Homo sapiens: one gene and its partners. The protein of the gene in region 4 interacts with the protein of the main gene of each other region in a pairwise test. Each region holds a gene or a part of one and is shown on either strand. Other genes may lie near its edges.

Region 1 (4,136 bases), on a different chromosome or scaffold from region 4:
ATGATCCAAAAGTTTGGTGAATGGATAAATAAAGAAATGAATGAGAGTTCAAATGCCTAAGCATCTCTTGGAGAAGTGGCTCCATCTCTACTTCTCATTCTGGGCTCCCACTCCCTTCTCTTCCCTCTTACCTGGTGGCTTCCTGTCGTTTGTGGAAGGTGCGATTAGGGAGGTTGGCAGACACGAAAGTTTCATCGTATCCCGAGGCATAGGCCTTTCCATTCCGCTTGGAGGCCTGGAAGGCAGCCCTCAAAGTCTTCCAGGGCAGCTTTTGGGGGCCTGCCCACAGTGGGACCAAGTCAGGGGCTGCCCTCTCCCTCTCAGCCCACCAGGCAACGCCCCCCAGCACCCAGAGCACAGCCCAGCCTGCCTGAGCCCCTGCCTCCCTGACTGCTCCCTGTTCCCTGCGGTGTAGCTTCGGGGGAATCCAGGCTCTGAGCCCCACGCTCACCACAGTCCAGGTCTCTCTGTAGCTGCCTGTGCAGCTTCTCCAGGTCCCATGGCCCCTGCAGCTCCTTGGCCCTTGTCTTCCTCCATTGTCGCCTTCGGAGGTTGTTGAAGCTGGGGCTGCTCCCCTGGCTCTGGCCCTGCACTTCTCCCTCATCGGAGGCTTCCTCTCCAGAAATCTGCCCCTTTCTCTGACAACCAGCCCTCCTTCTGCAGGGAGTCCTGTGCTCTCCCTCCTCAGCCTCCTCTGTGGCCTCTGAAAATTGCTCCTCCTCTGAGATCGACCCCCTCCTGGGGCGCTGGGGCAGCACCCCAGAACTCAGACCCCTCTCGGCCTCCTCAGCACCCAGGCTTTGCAGCTGGACCTGCTTGTCGGACGCCGATCCTGATCCTGGCCTCCTCCCAGGCAGCTGGAGACCACTGGGGGGCTCTGATCCTAGCTCCCCTTTGCCAGTAGGGATGGAGACACCGCCCCAGGCTCCCAGCTGCTGTCTCGCCTTCAGGTTTTGCGCCTCTGTCTTCCAGCAGCAGCCATGGGCCTCTGGGAGGTTGGCCGTGGACTTGCGCCTGGACTGACGCTGGGAGAACGAGGAGGGCATGGGCAGGGCTTGGTGGCCAGGGGTTGGGGAGCTTGGCTGAAGCACAGCCCGGACATCTGTGGCGATGCTCTCCCAGGCCCACTGGAAGGGGAAGGAGGGTTTCCGAGGAAGAAGCGGGAAGTGACTGAAGAAGGAAAGGGTGGGGGTCAGGGTCGGCGCCAGCCCCCAGAGGGCCCTGACCCCCAACAGCCTCCTGACCCATCCCACTGCTGCTTACTCTTCAGACTCTTCAGAGCCCTGTCCTTTCTTGCTCTGGCCCCTGGGCTTGCGGTCCTTCTTTGCTGTCTGCCTTGAGCTCTGAGACCTCTGCTGCAGGTCTTGATTTGGCACACCATCACCACTCCCCAGGCAGCCCTGGGCAGAGACAGTAGGGGAGGAGCAGCCAGCTTGAGCAGCCTCCTGGACTGTGTTGCACCTCACCCGGGTGCTCCCTCTGTGCACCTGGCTGGGCCTGGCTGGGTCCCTCTGGGCCCTCGTTACCATAAAAACCAACCAAACAGGGCTGGATGTGGTGCTCACACCTGTAACCCCAGCACTTTGGGAGGCCAAGGGGGGCGGATCACCTGAGGCCAGGAGTTCGAGACCAGCCTGGCCAACATGGCGAAACCCCATCTGTACTAAAAATACAAAAAAAATTAGCCGAGTGTGGTGGCCTGCGCCTGTAATCCTAGCTACTTGGGAGGCTGAGGCAGGACAATCGCTTGAACCTAGGAGTTGGAGGCTGCAGTGAGCCGAGATTGTGTCATTGCACTCCAGCCTGGGCAACAAGAGTGAAACTCCATCTCAAAAAAACAAACAAACAAAAAAACCCGACCGAGCACCACCTCCGTTCTGCATATTAAAATAGCAACAGCTGCCACCTGCTGAGCACCTATTGTGTGCTCAGGACTTTCATGCATAAACACACGTAACCTTCCCAAGGACCCTAGGAGGCCGGTACTCACTATCACCTCCATCATGTGGAGGAGAAAGCTGAGGCTCAGAGAGGCTGAGTAACTGAGGTCACACAGCTGGGAAGTGGTGGAGCCCAGATTTGTCACCATTGCGCTAGGCCACCTCTGGGCCCTGGACTGCACTCCCAAATGTCCCACTGGGCCCTGGACCTGCTACAGCCAAGGCAGAAACCAAGGTGGTCTTCATCAAGGTGGTCTTCATCTTTCCTGAAACCTGCTCCTTCCGCAGTGTTCCCTGAATGGCCCCATCATCCCTGGGAGTCACTCCTGGGCGTCATCCCTCGGCTTCTCCCAAGGCCCTTAGGCCTCCCTGTGGTCCCTGTCCCACTCCTGCCTCCCTGAGTTTCATCTGGACCTCAGCTCAGGTCTTGTGGCTTCTCAAGGGCCTCCCCAGCCCAGGCCTCCCTGACCCACCTGGCTCTAGGCAGCTGGAAGTGTCCTCACTGGGCCTCCCTCACCTGCTTGTCCTGAGAGACGGTCGACAGCAGCTTGAGCAGCCCCGTTCTGGTTCCTGGAGCCTGGAGCCGCACGTCCTGCCCTGGTCGCACCGACGGGGTCCTAACCAACTGTTGGTAGGTATTTAGCATATCGGTGTCCTGCCCCATCCTGCCCCATCCCCCATCCGCACCGTAGAACTGCCTAACAGGCCATCTCTATGGCAACCAGTCCTCAGCCAGTCTCAATGGGTCTGGCAAAAAGCATGCTAGGAAGGGGTCAGTGGGGTATGTGAGGCCAATCTCCTTCTGGGAGAGAGTTCAGCAGGATGCCCAGGAGTCATTTAGCGCAGAGACCCAGGCCCAAGTCCTGCCTCTGCCTCATCCACAGGCTCCCCGTGTGACCTGGTGTAAGTCCCCTGTCCCTACTCTGCCTGTGTTTCCCCATCCATCTGTACAGGGGAGTCAGCCTGTCTCCTGTGCTGCCCCCCGGCCTGGCCGAGTCCCTGAAGGAGCCAAACTGAACTTTCACAAGATTTTATTTAAATCCTTGCACTCCCAGGCTGGGAGTGGTGGCTCACACCTGTAATCCCAGCACTTTGGGGGGCTGAGGCAGGTGGATCACTGGAGGTCAAGAGTTCAAGACCAGCCTGGCCAAAATGGCAAAACCCCATCTCTACCAAAAATGCAAAAAAGATTAGCCAGGCCTGGTGGCGCATGCCTGTAATCCCAGCTACTCAGGCTGAGGCACGAGAATCACTTGAACCCGGGAGGCAGAGGCTGCATCGACCCCAGATTGCACCACTGCACTCCAGCCAGGGCGACAGAGTGAGACTCTGTCTCAATAAAAAAGAAACAAATAAACAAATCTTTGCACTCCCAGCCCCAGCCAGGAAGTTGAATGCTGTGTCCAGGAGAGAGGCAGCAGGCCATTCAGAGCCTGGGCCCAGGCCCACCTGGCCATCTTCATAGGCCATGAGGTTCTGGAGGGAGTTACAACATTGAAAGCTTACCCCAGGCCGGGCAGTGGCTGTAATTCCAGCACTTTGGGAGGCCGAGGTGGGCGGATTGCCTGAGGTCAGGAGTTGGAGACCAGCCTGGCCAACATGGTGAAACCCCATCTCCCACCTGGATTGAAACTCTATCTCTACTAAAAATACAAAAATTAGCCGGGCATGGTGGTGGGCACCTGTAATCCCAGCTACTCGGGAGGCTGAGGCTCTCCCTCTCCGGGTTCTCTTGAACCCGGGAGGTGGAGGTTGCAGTGAGCCGAGGCCACACCAGTGTACTCCAGCCTGGGCGAAAGAGTGAGACTCCATCTCAAAAAAATATATTTTTTTAATATAAAAAAAGTAAAAGATCTTACCCCAAACTTCTAGCAGTGCTCAAAAGCCTTGGAATCTTAAGTCCCCATGGGACGCCTGGTGCTGACCACTGAGGCTTGCAGTACAGGGATGTGGTGCTGAGCTGAGGCCCTGGAGACGGACCAACTGGGCTGGAGGCCTGGTCTCACTAGCTCTGTGACCAACTCCCCACTCTGCAAAACTGGAATCACGGGCCCAGCTCATAGGTTTGTTGCAAGGACTACATGAAACCCCAAACGATGACATCGGTAAATGTTATTATTACTAACACTAGCTGGCCGTTCTTTTGAGGCAGCAGAGCATCATGGCTAAGAGCATAGAGGAAGCGCTTGGGTGCAA
Region 2 (3,500 bases), on a different chromosome or scaffold from region 4:
GGCTCAAATGCTCCCTCTCCGTGATGAGCCTCCCACCAGGGCACCAGCCATCCCCAGCCAGGCTCTTGGCTGCCAAGGTGAAATCCTCCCCAATTTCTGCCCCTTGCTCCACCCTGGCTATTTTGTTCTGCTGCTCCCCTGCTCAATGCCAGGTGAGTAGCTGGAGGACAAATGCCAGGGCTACTGCGTCGTTATTTATTGGCAGGGGCACAGCCAGCAACTGATAATCATGGTTCAAGAAAAGAAGGGGAGGGCACAGAGCAGACCAGTCAGGAAGAGGCAGACCCTAGCTCCCGGCCTCTCTGGAAAGCCTGGGGGTCCACAGGAAACCTGCCAAACTGCCTCCTTGCCCTGTGGGGGCAGCAACTGTCCCTGTCCTGTCGGCGCTGCTGCATCCTGACCACCCCTCGGCACAGTAAACACACGGCTTGGCGGGGCTTTCCCACATGGGCAGGAAGGAGCTAAGACCCTCAGCTTACTTGGTGCTGCTACAGTCAACCTCGGCCACCTTCACTGTGGGCAGCGTCTGCGAAGCCACCGGCTCAATGGTGAGCGTGTTGTCCTCCACGGCGGCCCGTACCAGCACCGAGAGCTGTGGCAGACCAGGGAGGCAGGCAGGGTGGTAAGGGGCTGGGCCCTGGCGGAGGGGTGTGTCCCCCAGCTGGCCCCGCCCCTGCCATGCCTCACCTCCTGCATTGTGAAGTCCAGGCAGGGGCCCACGTCCTCTCGGTACACCCTTTCCAGGAAGGGGCAGGTCTTGTCCAGGGTGGGGGATTCCCTCCAGGCCTGGAACTCTGCAAACAGGATTGTGTCCACCTGTGGGGGAGGGCAAGCGAGGGTGGGGGCGGTCAGGGTACTGGGGCCAGCATAGAAGATGCAGGCTGAGCTGAAGGGGAGCGAGGGAGGACGTGGGGCAGGCCCAGCAAGCCAGCAGGTCGATCCCCAGCAGCCGTGCAGGGAAGCCAAGTCCAGCAGCAGCAGAGCTCCCTTCTGCCCTTTGCACCAAAGAATTTAGAACTAAAAGTTTTGTTTCCAGGCCGGTGTTAAATTTCTTGGCGCTACTGGATTTTAGAGTGGGGTGCAGGGCTTTGTCCTGAAGACCCTCAGTGCCTCCTTGAGGAGGAAAAGTCAAAGAGCAACTAGCAGGAGGCCACAGGTACCAGCAGGTACACAAGCACACACAAGCACGTGCACACAGGAGGGGACACACACAGGCTGCCCTGGGCCCACACCTCAGAGGTGACTGCTGGCCTGCTCCAGGCCACATGCAGAATGAGGGAGGCTGGGAGGGGGCAAAGTGGGAGGCCCCTCTTTGGAGCCATTTACCTGTCGGGAAAAGGAGGGAGAGGGAGTGGAGGCAGGGGCTGGGGGCTCCCCAGGTGGGAGCGGCCAGGCCGGCTCGTAGGTGAGGTGAACCGCCTTGCTGGGGACCACGCAGAGGAGCAGGGAGAGCAGCGGGGCCAGCCCGGGCTGGGCCGGATGGACAGACAGACAGACAGACAGACAGGTAGACAGGTGCACAGAGACAGAACAGGAGGAAGGGGAGAAGTTAATGTACATTCAGAAGCTCAGAGCTCAGGAGGTGGATGAGGGCCTGCTCGTCTTCCCTGGAGGCCCTGGAGACAGAGGTGGAAGCCAGGATGGAGTCGAGTGGGCTGGCGCCAGGGACCCAGGAAGCTGAAGGCACCACAGCCCTCTGAGGCACTACCTGGGTGCAGCCTTGAACTCAGCTCTTGATGTCCCTGTCTCTGGTTCCTCCAGCAGCCCCGGGAGGCCCCATTTATCAGGTGAGAAAGCTGAGGTGCTGACAGGTGGCCTCATTTGCCTACAGACCCATGACCATGAGTGTCAGCCCAGCCTGGGCCCAGCAACTGGTGTGGCCAGCTGAGGTGGGACGGAGACACCTCTCCAAAGGCCACGCTTGTCTCAGCCCCACAGTCAGAGGGTGCCAGAAACCCCTTGAGCACAGGGCTGTCACCAGGTGGTCCTGGGGCTCGAGGCTGTGGCCACACGGGGTCCAGGCAGCCTCTCCCCTGAGGCCCAGTGGCTGCTGCTTGGCCTCTTAAGGCCAAGGAAGTGTGTGTCTCAGTGGAGGCCCCAGATCCTCAGGGCCAAAGCCAGCCTCAGGTGCAGAGACCACTACCTACTGCTTGGAGTCAGTGGGGCAGGGAGGGGGCCTCAGGTCCCCAGATGGTATACCCTGGAGGCTGCAGGCCAAGTGCCTCAGATCACAGGAGGTTGGAGAGAAAGGACCTGCCCAGCCCTCACATCCCAGAGAGGCGCAGGACAGGCTCCAGGTCACACAGCATGGGGCAGGCTGGTCCTCACTGGGCTCGGACCCTGCCTACCGCAGGCACTGCCACCCTTCCCCGTGCCCAGAGCCCGCTTCCCACCCTCACCTCCTTGCCCTCTCTGTCTGGGGTGAGGGTGTGTCCCGCAGCGGGACACACGGCGGGGCAGAGGGTGCTGCTGGTGCTCTTGTGGCGAGAGTGGCCCTTTCGGGGCCCGGCCTTGGTGGGGCTCAGCAGCTGGGGGTGAAGCTCGCGGTTGGGAGAGGCTGGTGTGGACGTGATGACCAGCGTCTTCAAGGCTGTCACCTCTGCCTGCAGCATGTCGATCTGCATGGGATGGGATGGCTGTCAACCCTCACCCAGACTGGATGCCATCCTGGCTGCCACCGCCTATCAGCCTAACTCAGGACAATGCACCCCTGCAGTGACAGGCACTTAGTCCCACCCGACGCCCTCAGAACAGCCTTCGAGGCAGAGACCCAGACACTCGTTTTACACATAGGGAAACTGAGGCTCACAGAGGCGACATGGCCTGCCCAAGGTCACTCTGTGAGCAGGATTCTGTTAGGAACAAGTGTCTGGGAGCTGGCTGGGCCTCCCATGAGAGTTCTGGGACCGCCCCCAGGAGCCAGGAAAGGCCCAGGCCTCACATTTTGCAGATGGGCAACCAGGCTTGGAGAGAGGAAGCGACTTGCCCAGGCTCAGACAGCCATACTGAGTGAGGTTTCTGCTTTGTAAAGTGGGGCTGGGAGGAGAGGGAAGAAGGTACAATAATCACAGGGTCCTCCCAGCCCCAGCACTATCCCAGAAAAGGCTCTGCCATGCAGCAGAATCACTGATGGAGCCCCGGGACACTGGGCCCTGTGATCTCAGACCCCCACCCTTCCCTTCCCTCCCTGGGCCTAGGTTCACCCATTCCTGCTGGCCCCACCGGGCCAGGTGAGCGTCCACTCGGGCAGCAAAGCTCAGTGCTCGCTGAGCCGGGAGGCAGGGGGGGTGCCTGGGCTGGCCTGGGCAGGCGGGGATGGGCCTCACCTTGCCCCGAGCCTCCTTCAGCTGCTTTTCTGATGCCGCCTGCTTCATGTTGGCTTCTCGAACCATCTTGTGAGCTTCCTAGGAAGAAGGCAGTCCCTGCGTGAGTGGTGAGGAGCCAACGGACGCCCAGATGACCCATTCCCCAAGTTGTTCCCGCGCCCAGCCGGTGTACCT
Region 3 (3,150 bases), on a different chromosome or scaffold from region 4:
GGCCCGGGATGGTAGGGAAGGTTGTCAAGGGGGCACCAGGTAGGCTGGAACCAAGAAGGCTGGACAGATGGCCATGATGGTGACTGCACCTGCCCCACCAGGGGGCCCTGGGGCAGTGGCAATTGTAGCCATGCTGGTCTTTTGCCAGGAGGCCATATGCAGTAGACCCAGGAGTTGGCTGGTGAGGTGAGCAGACGGTAGGGCATGCAGTTTGGGTGGGGAGGGGCTCTCTTTTGGAGAGGACGCTCTGACTCTACATGGACACCTGTCCCTGGGTCCCTTTTCCTCTCATTTCACAGATAAGGTCCCGGGGTAGGCGATGGGGGCAGGGGCCAGCTGAAGCCTGTCTGACCCCGGGGGCCCCTTTCCCACTGCCCTGTGCTGCCTTCCTCACCCCCTTCGCTGGTGGAAGGGACGTCATCTTTCCTGTTCCAAGGGGAGAAGTCCCAGGGAGCTGCCACACCGCAGCGAGGGGAGAGGAGGGCAGATACACGTGGCTCTAGAGGGCGTGAGAAATGGCATTCTTTATTCATAAATAAAAACATAAAATTGCCACAAATAGTTTACATGGCCAAAAAGTGACGTCAAAAATAAAATGAAGCTGTCAAAAGCAAACCAAACCAAACAAGAAACCACAAAGAGAAAAATAACTATGTACATCTTCCAGATGCTGGTCCGTCCCAGCCTGCCTCTGCTGGGGGCTCCAGCTCTGCCTGCAGGCGCAGCACAAAGGCCACCTTGCACAAGAGGTGGGTGAGCAGCCCCGCTGGCCCAGGGGTGCAGCCTCTGTCATGGCAGCACCCACCGCATGATGGCTTGAGGTCTGCAGGGAAATCCCTCTCCCCAAGCTGCTGCTCCTCCAGCCAGGCCTGGCTTAGTTTCGGGCAACTGTCTCACCTAAGAGATGGCCCAGGCTGGGGCCAGGCACAGGAGGCTCACTGAGTGCCTCTCTGGGGAAGAGATGCCCCCATATCCCAGTCCCATGTGAGCTCAGTGCTATAGGGGCTGTGTGTGCCTGGCAGGAGTTCACTGGGAGAGCTAGGAGGGAACCCCGTGACAGTCCAGTCGTTCCCAGGTCCAGGGGCAGAGTCCGATCCTTGGTGAGGTGATGCGGAGTGCTGCTCTCTCCTGCAGGCGTCCTTTGGGGACAGAGCAGGTTGGTCCATCCGAGTGGGTCAGTGGGTCGGCCAGCAGGCGTGCCCAGAGGGAAGGGCAGGAAGCCCACCCTGTCTGGGGCCTGGGGCCAGGCTCTGTGCTTGGAGGCTTCTGCTGTCCAGAGCCTCTTTCCAGAGAGGCAGAATCTGGCATGGTCCAAGAATAGTGAGGGCGCTTTTGGACAGGGCAGGAAAGAACACCCACAGGAAGGTGAGGTTGCAAGGTCGCAGGATACTTGCATTCTAGTGCCACGGTGGGCCACTCTGGGGCGGGGGCTGGTGGCAGCCCAGGGAAGACATCTGCCACCTTGGACGTAGGACAAGGCCTGGGGGGGACACATCTGGGCCGGCCTGGGACAGGGCCATGGAGATATGGAGAAGGCTGCACTCCTCTGTGTATGGAAGGTACCGGGACACCATGGCGGAGCACAGCCTCCGCCTCAGGGCCTTCCCCTGGGTGTGGCAGCCACTTCTTCTCAGGCAACGTCTGAGGCAGAGCACTGGACTCTGACTGCTCTTTCCTGGAGTTGGGGGGGGGTCTCCAGCCTGGGGAGGGGGAGCCAGCCCTTTCCTCTGTCTCCGTGGGGCAGTCTCACTGGGAGGAAAAACTCAAACAAGGCACGGCCTGGTGGAAATGAAGGAACTGAGGGCTGAGGCGCAAGGAATGGGGCATCTTTGACTTGGGTCTGGACTGTGCCCAATGGAGGGTACTGCCCTCAGGCAGGGAGGGACTTTTGGCTTGTAGATTCCAGGTTTAAGCCTAGCTTGGGACTAAGAGCAATGGTTTGAAATTCCAGAAAAGCTCCTCTGTCGTTTGAGGATGGCAGGATGGGCACCGTTTAACCTCAGGGACAGGAAGGTAGAGCCAGCCACAGAAAAGGTGACTCTGGCCTCAGCCCGCACTCAGGGAAGGGCTAGGACCCATGAGGGCGGGGGGCAAGGAGAGAAGCATCTCCCCACCCCTACCTCGGGGTCTCTAAGGGCCAGCGGTGAGCGAGGCAGAAATGGGGACTGGCCTTGGACTCGCAAGTTCCCAGACGCTCCCCTCCTCATCTCAGCAGGCAGCAGGCGCAGGCATGTGGGAAGGGATGCTGTCCTGAGAACAGCAGCTGTGGCTACAGTCAAAAATAGAACATGGAACAGCCTGCTAGGTCTGGCTTGCTTCTGAAAAGACAAGAAAGCAAAAAAGAAAAAGAAAGAAGAATAAAAGAAAAATCTGGCCAGGCACGGTGGCTCACATCTGCAATCTCAGCACTTTGGGAGGCCAAGGCAGGTGGATTGCTTGAGGCCACAAGTTTGAGACCAGCTTTGGCAACAAAACGAGACCCCGTCCCTACAAAAAAAATGAAAAGTTAGCCAGGCACGGTGGCGCGCACCTGTAGTCCCAGCTAGTTGGAAGGCTGAGGCAGGAGGATTGCTTGAGCCCAGGAGTATGAGGCTGCAGTGAGCTATGATCATGCCACTGCACTCCAGCCTGGGGGACAGAGCAAGACCCTGTCTCATAAAATTAAAAATAAAATCCCTGAACCAAACAACAGAGAAACTCCACCTTTTATCTCTCTCTACCACCGCCTCCCGCTCCGCACATCTGCAGAGAAACCCTGGACTCCCTGGGGCACTGCCCAAGCTCCTGAGAAAGGGAGCTGCTCTCTGGATCCTTTAGTCTGGGACAAATGGGGGTCTTGAGGTGGAGGGAGGATGGCTGGTGGCCAGGCTATTCACACTGCTGTGTGTATGCCTCTTTTTCGTCCTGCTTGGGGCTCTGGCTTCCTGGCGCTCTGAGGAGCCGTCCTGACCTCTAGAAACCCAGAACTCAGCCCTGAAGGTGCTAAGGGGGAAAGGTTTGCCGCTAAACCTGGCTGTAGGCAGAGGAGGAAAATGCCCAGATCACATATATGCCATCTTAGTGATATGGGCTCTTCTGGATCAAGCAAAAGCTTGATTCTGGGGAGGGAAAAACATTCCAGAGTAGCCGCCGGCCAACGTGAAGCAGGTA
Region 4 (3,500 bases):
TGACCTCAGGTGATCCACCTGCCTTGGCCTCCCAAAGTGCTGGGATGACAGGCATGAGCCACGGCGCCCGGCCTGTCAACGTAATTTTAAGAGTTAAGTGTGAAAGAATGTCTATCATATTCATCCTTGCCATTAGTTTTCCTTCACTCCTGACATTCCTAGTTTCCTTCCTTCTGTTGTGTCTAAAGTACCTCCTTTATCAGTTCTTTTAGATCCAGTCTGCTGGTGACAAACTTTTCCTTCATCTGAGAATGTCTTTATTCACTCTCATTCCTGAAGAATATTTTTACTGAATGTATAATTATGGGTTGACAGTTTTTTGCTTTCAGTACTTGAAAAATATTATGCCACTTCCTTCTGAGGAGAAATCTGATGACAGCTGCTGCTGAGAACCCACTACCGCTCCAGTCACTGTCCCCTGTGGGCTGTGCATCGCTCTCTCTGTGTGCTTTCAACAGTTTTTGTCTTTAGGCCGGGCGCAGTGGCTCACGCCTGTAATTCCAGCACTTTGGGAGGCCAGCGCAAGTGGATCACCTGAGGCCAGAAGTTCGAGACCAGCCTGGCCAACATGGTGAAACCCTGTCTCTACTAACAATACAAACGCCACCAGCTGGGCATGGTGGCACATGCCTGTAACCCTAGCTACTTTGGAGGCTGAGGCATGAGAATCGCTCGAACCCAGGAGGCAGAGGTTGCAGTGAGCCGAGATTGTGCCACTGCACTCCAGCCTGGGCAACAGAGACTCCGTCTCAAAAAACAAGAAATTCATTTCAAATATAAAAGAGAGAGGTAGGTAAAAAGAAAAAGGGATGAAAAAGTTATACCACGCGAATGCTAATCAAAAGAAAGCCCGAGTGGATTAATTAATATCAGACAAGGTAGACTTCAGAACAAAGAATGTTGCCAGACAAAGAGGAAGATTACGTAACAATATAAGGGTCAATTATCCTAAAAAAAAAAAACCCTAAATGTATACACATCTAACAACAAAGATACAAAATATATGAAACAAAAACAAAGAATCGTGATTTAAAAAATAAAGATCTATATTAAAACAGGAATAGAAAGAAACTTCCTTAACCTCCCTCCACTACCCCCACCACAAAAAACCTTCAGCAAAAACTCAACCTAAAAAAGTGAAATGCTGAAAGTTCTTCCTCTGGGATTAGGGAGAAAGACAGCTATTATCAACATCATACCGGAGAGTTTAGCTAGGGGCGATAATGCAAGAAGAAGTAAACAATATCAGCATTGGAAAAGAAAAATAAAACCTCCCTTATTTTATTTTACTTTATTTTTTTTGAGATGGAGTCTCGCTCTGTTACCTAGGCTGGAGTGTAGTGGTGCAATCTCGGCTCACTGCAACCTCCGCCTCCTGGGTTCAAGTGATTCTCCTGCCTCAGCCTCCCAAGTGGCTGGGATTACAGGTGCCTGCCACCACGCCCAGCTAATTTTTTTGTATTTTTAGTAGAGACGGGGTTTCACCATGTTGGCCAGGCTGGTCTCAAACTCCCGACCTCAGGTGATCCACCCACCTCGGCCTCCCAAAGTGCTGGGATTACAGGCGTGAGCCACTGCGCCCGGCAAAAACCTCCCCTATTTGAGACAATCTGTGCCAGTGGAGTGTCCTGTCTGGCCCCTCCCTTTCTTTTCCTGCCTTAGGCCTGCAGATGGGGCCTGCCTCCCCTACACTAAGGGGGGCTGTGGCTCCAGCAGGGTGAAGGCATCTGTGTGGAAGGCAGCCAGGCTGGGCTGTCAAGCTCGGTGATGCTGGGGAGGCATCCAGGCAGGAGAGGGGCCTGCAAATAGGGGAAGGGGCCACAGCAGCAATGGGGGATTGGTTACACCAAGAGGACTCGATCAAAGTAACTGTGTTAGTGATAATGGGCGAGCCAGGTTTCTCATTATTGGGAAAGGAAGTTAGAATAATGAAAAAGAAAGCTAGAATGCTAGAATGAACCTTTTGATGTTGGACTAACCACAATGGAATAGATTAGCCTATGAGTTTGTCTTGAAATTAAGACCTTCCATTCACCAAAGACACCAGTGAAGGAATAAAAGGCAAGCCATAGACTGGGAGAAGATATTTGCAACACATATAACCAACGCTAGGCTCATATTCAGCATAAAATACCCTAAAAAAATCTATGACAAAGGGCAGATGATCCAATAAACAATGGGCAAAAGACATGGCCTGGAGCTCCAAAAGAGGGGCTGTCGAAAGGCCAATTCTATGGACTGAGCTCTGCCCCCCAAAATTTACGGGTTGAAGCTCTCACCCCGAACATGACTGTATTTGGAGACAGCGCCTCTGAGGAGGCAGCTAAGGTTACATGAGGTCCTAAGGCTGGGGCCCTGGACTGTTGTCCTTACAAGAAGAGGAAGAGTCGGGCGCGGTGTCTCACGCCTGTCATCCCAGCACTTTGGGAGGCTCAGGTAGGCAGATCACGAGGTCAGGAGTTCGGGACCAGCCTGACCAACGTGGTGAAACCTCATCTCTACTAAAAATACAAAAATTAGCCGGGCGTGGTGGCATGCACCTGTAATCCCAGCTACTCAGGAGGCTGAGGCAGGAGAATCGCTTGAACTTGGGAGGCAGAGGCTGCAATGAGCCAAAATCATGCCACTGCACTCCACCCTGGGCAACAGAGCAAGACTCTGTCCCAAAAAAAAAAAAAAAAAAGAGGAAGAGACACCAGGAGTGAGCATGCAGCGGGGGAGGAGTCACGTGAGCACGCAGGGGGAGAGTCCACATGAGCACGCAGGGGAGAGGGTGCCGTCTGCAAGCCACAGAGAGGCCTCAGGAGGAACCCACCCTGCCGGCAACCTGATCTCTGACATCCAGACTCCAGAAGTGAGAAAATAAAACCGTTGTTTAAGCCACTCAGGCTGTGGTGTTGAGTTACGGCAGCCCTAGCCAATCATACGCCAATGCACACAGGAAGAGATGTTCAATCCCACGAATCTCATGAATTTGCAAATTAAACCAAAATAGGATGTGCTACGTGTCCACTAGAGGGAACAGAAGGAGCCGCTGACCACGTAAGTGTTGGCGCGCATGCAGCACCACGGCTACCTCGCACGATGTGGATGGATGCTTTGGAGAAGAATCTGGCATTATCAAGTGAAACACAGTGTAGGTCTGAAGACGCCAGACAGAAGCACAGGTGCCACAGAATTCCATTCACACCAAAACAGGGAGCGCTGACTGCAGTGAGCAGCCAGGGCACGTGGGCTCCGGAGGGAGCACAAGGAATTCCATTCACACCAAAACAGGGAGCGCTGACTGCAGTGAGGAGCCAGGGCACGTGGGCTCCGGAGGGAGCACAAGGAATTCCATTCACACCAAAACAGGGAGCGCTGACTGCAGTGAGGAGCCAGGGCACGTGGGCTCCGGAGGGAGCGCGAGGAATTCCATTCACACCAAAACAGGGAGCGCTGACTGCAGTGAGGAGCCAGGGCACGTGGGCTCTGGAGGTAGCTCCAGGAATTCCATTCAC

Evidence for each region. Proteins that work in one complex are often made in the same cells at the same time.
Region 1: the proteins of CCDC57 (region 4) and TSGA10IP interact in binary tests that used the Homo sapiens proteins (3 or more experiments, as listed by UniProt).
Region 2: the proteins of CCDC57 (region 4) and RAB3IL1 interact in binary tests that used the Homo sapiens proteins (3 or more experiments, as listed by UniProt).
Region 3: the proteins of CCDC57 (region 4) and LZTS1 interact in binary tests that used the Homo sapiens proteins (3 or more experiments, as listed by UniProt).

Annotation. Positions count from the first base shown.
Region 1 is NC_000011.10:65,944,144-65,948,279, reverse strand, and holds the start of TSGA10IP (testis-specific protein 10-interacting protein), read right to left. Parts: upstream 2,801-4,136; 5' UTR 2,605-2,800; coding exon 2,458-2,604; exon of another isoform or gene 2,414-2,457; intron 1,401-2,413; coding exon 1,264-1,400; intron 1,171-1,263; coding exon 452-1,170; intron 280-451; coding exon 132-279; intron 1-131.
Region 2 is NC_000011.10:61,904,067-61,907,566, forward strand, and holds part of RAB3IL1 (guanine nucleotide exchange factor for Rab-3A), read right to left. Parts: coding exon 3,499-3,500; intron 3,405-3,498; coding exon 3,327-3,404; intron 3,037-3,326; coding exon of another isoform or gene 2,942-3,036; intron 2,619-2,941; coding exon 2,400-2,618; intron 817-2,399; coding exon 688-816; intron 593-687; coding exon 480-592; intron 1-479. UniProt on the Homo sapiens protein: Guanine nucleotide exchange factor (GEF) which may activate RAB3A, a GTPase that regulates synaptic vesicle exocytosis. Promotes the exchange of GDP to GTP, converting inactive GDP-bound Rab proteins into their active GTP-bound form.
Region 3 is NC_000008.11:20,245,665-20,248,814, forward strand, and holds the end of LZTS1 (leucine zipper putative tumor suppressor 1), read right to left. Parts: 3' UTR 501-3,150; downstream 1-500. UniProt on the Homo sapiens protein: Involved in the regulation of cell growth. May stabilize the active CDC2-cyclin B1 complex and thereby contribute to the regulation of the cell cycle and the prevention of uncontrolled cell proliferation. May act as a tumor suppressor.
Region 4 is NC_000017.11:82,167,843-82,171,342, forward strand, and holds part of CCDC57 (coiled-coil domain-containing protein 57), read right to left. Parts: intron 1-3,500. UniProt on the Homo sapiens protein: Pleiotropic regulator of centriole duplication, mitosis, and ciliogenesis. Critical interface between centrosome and microtubule-mediated cellular processes. Centriole duplication protein required for recruitment of CEP63, CEP152, and PLK4 to the centrosome.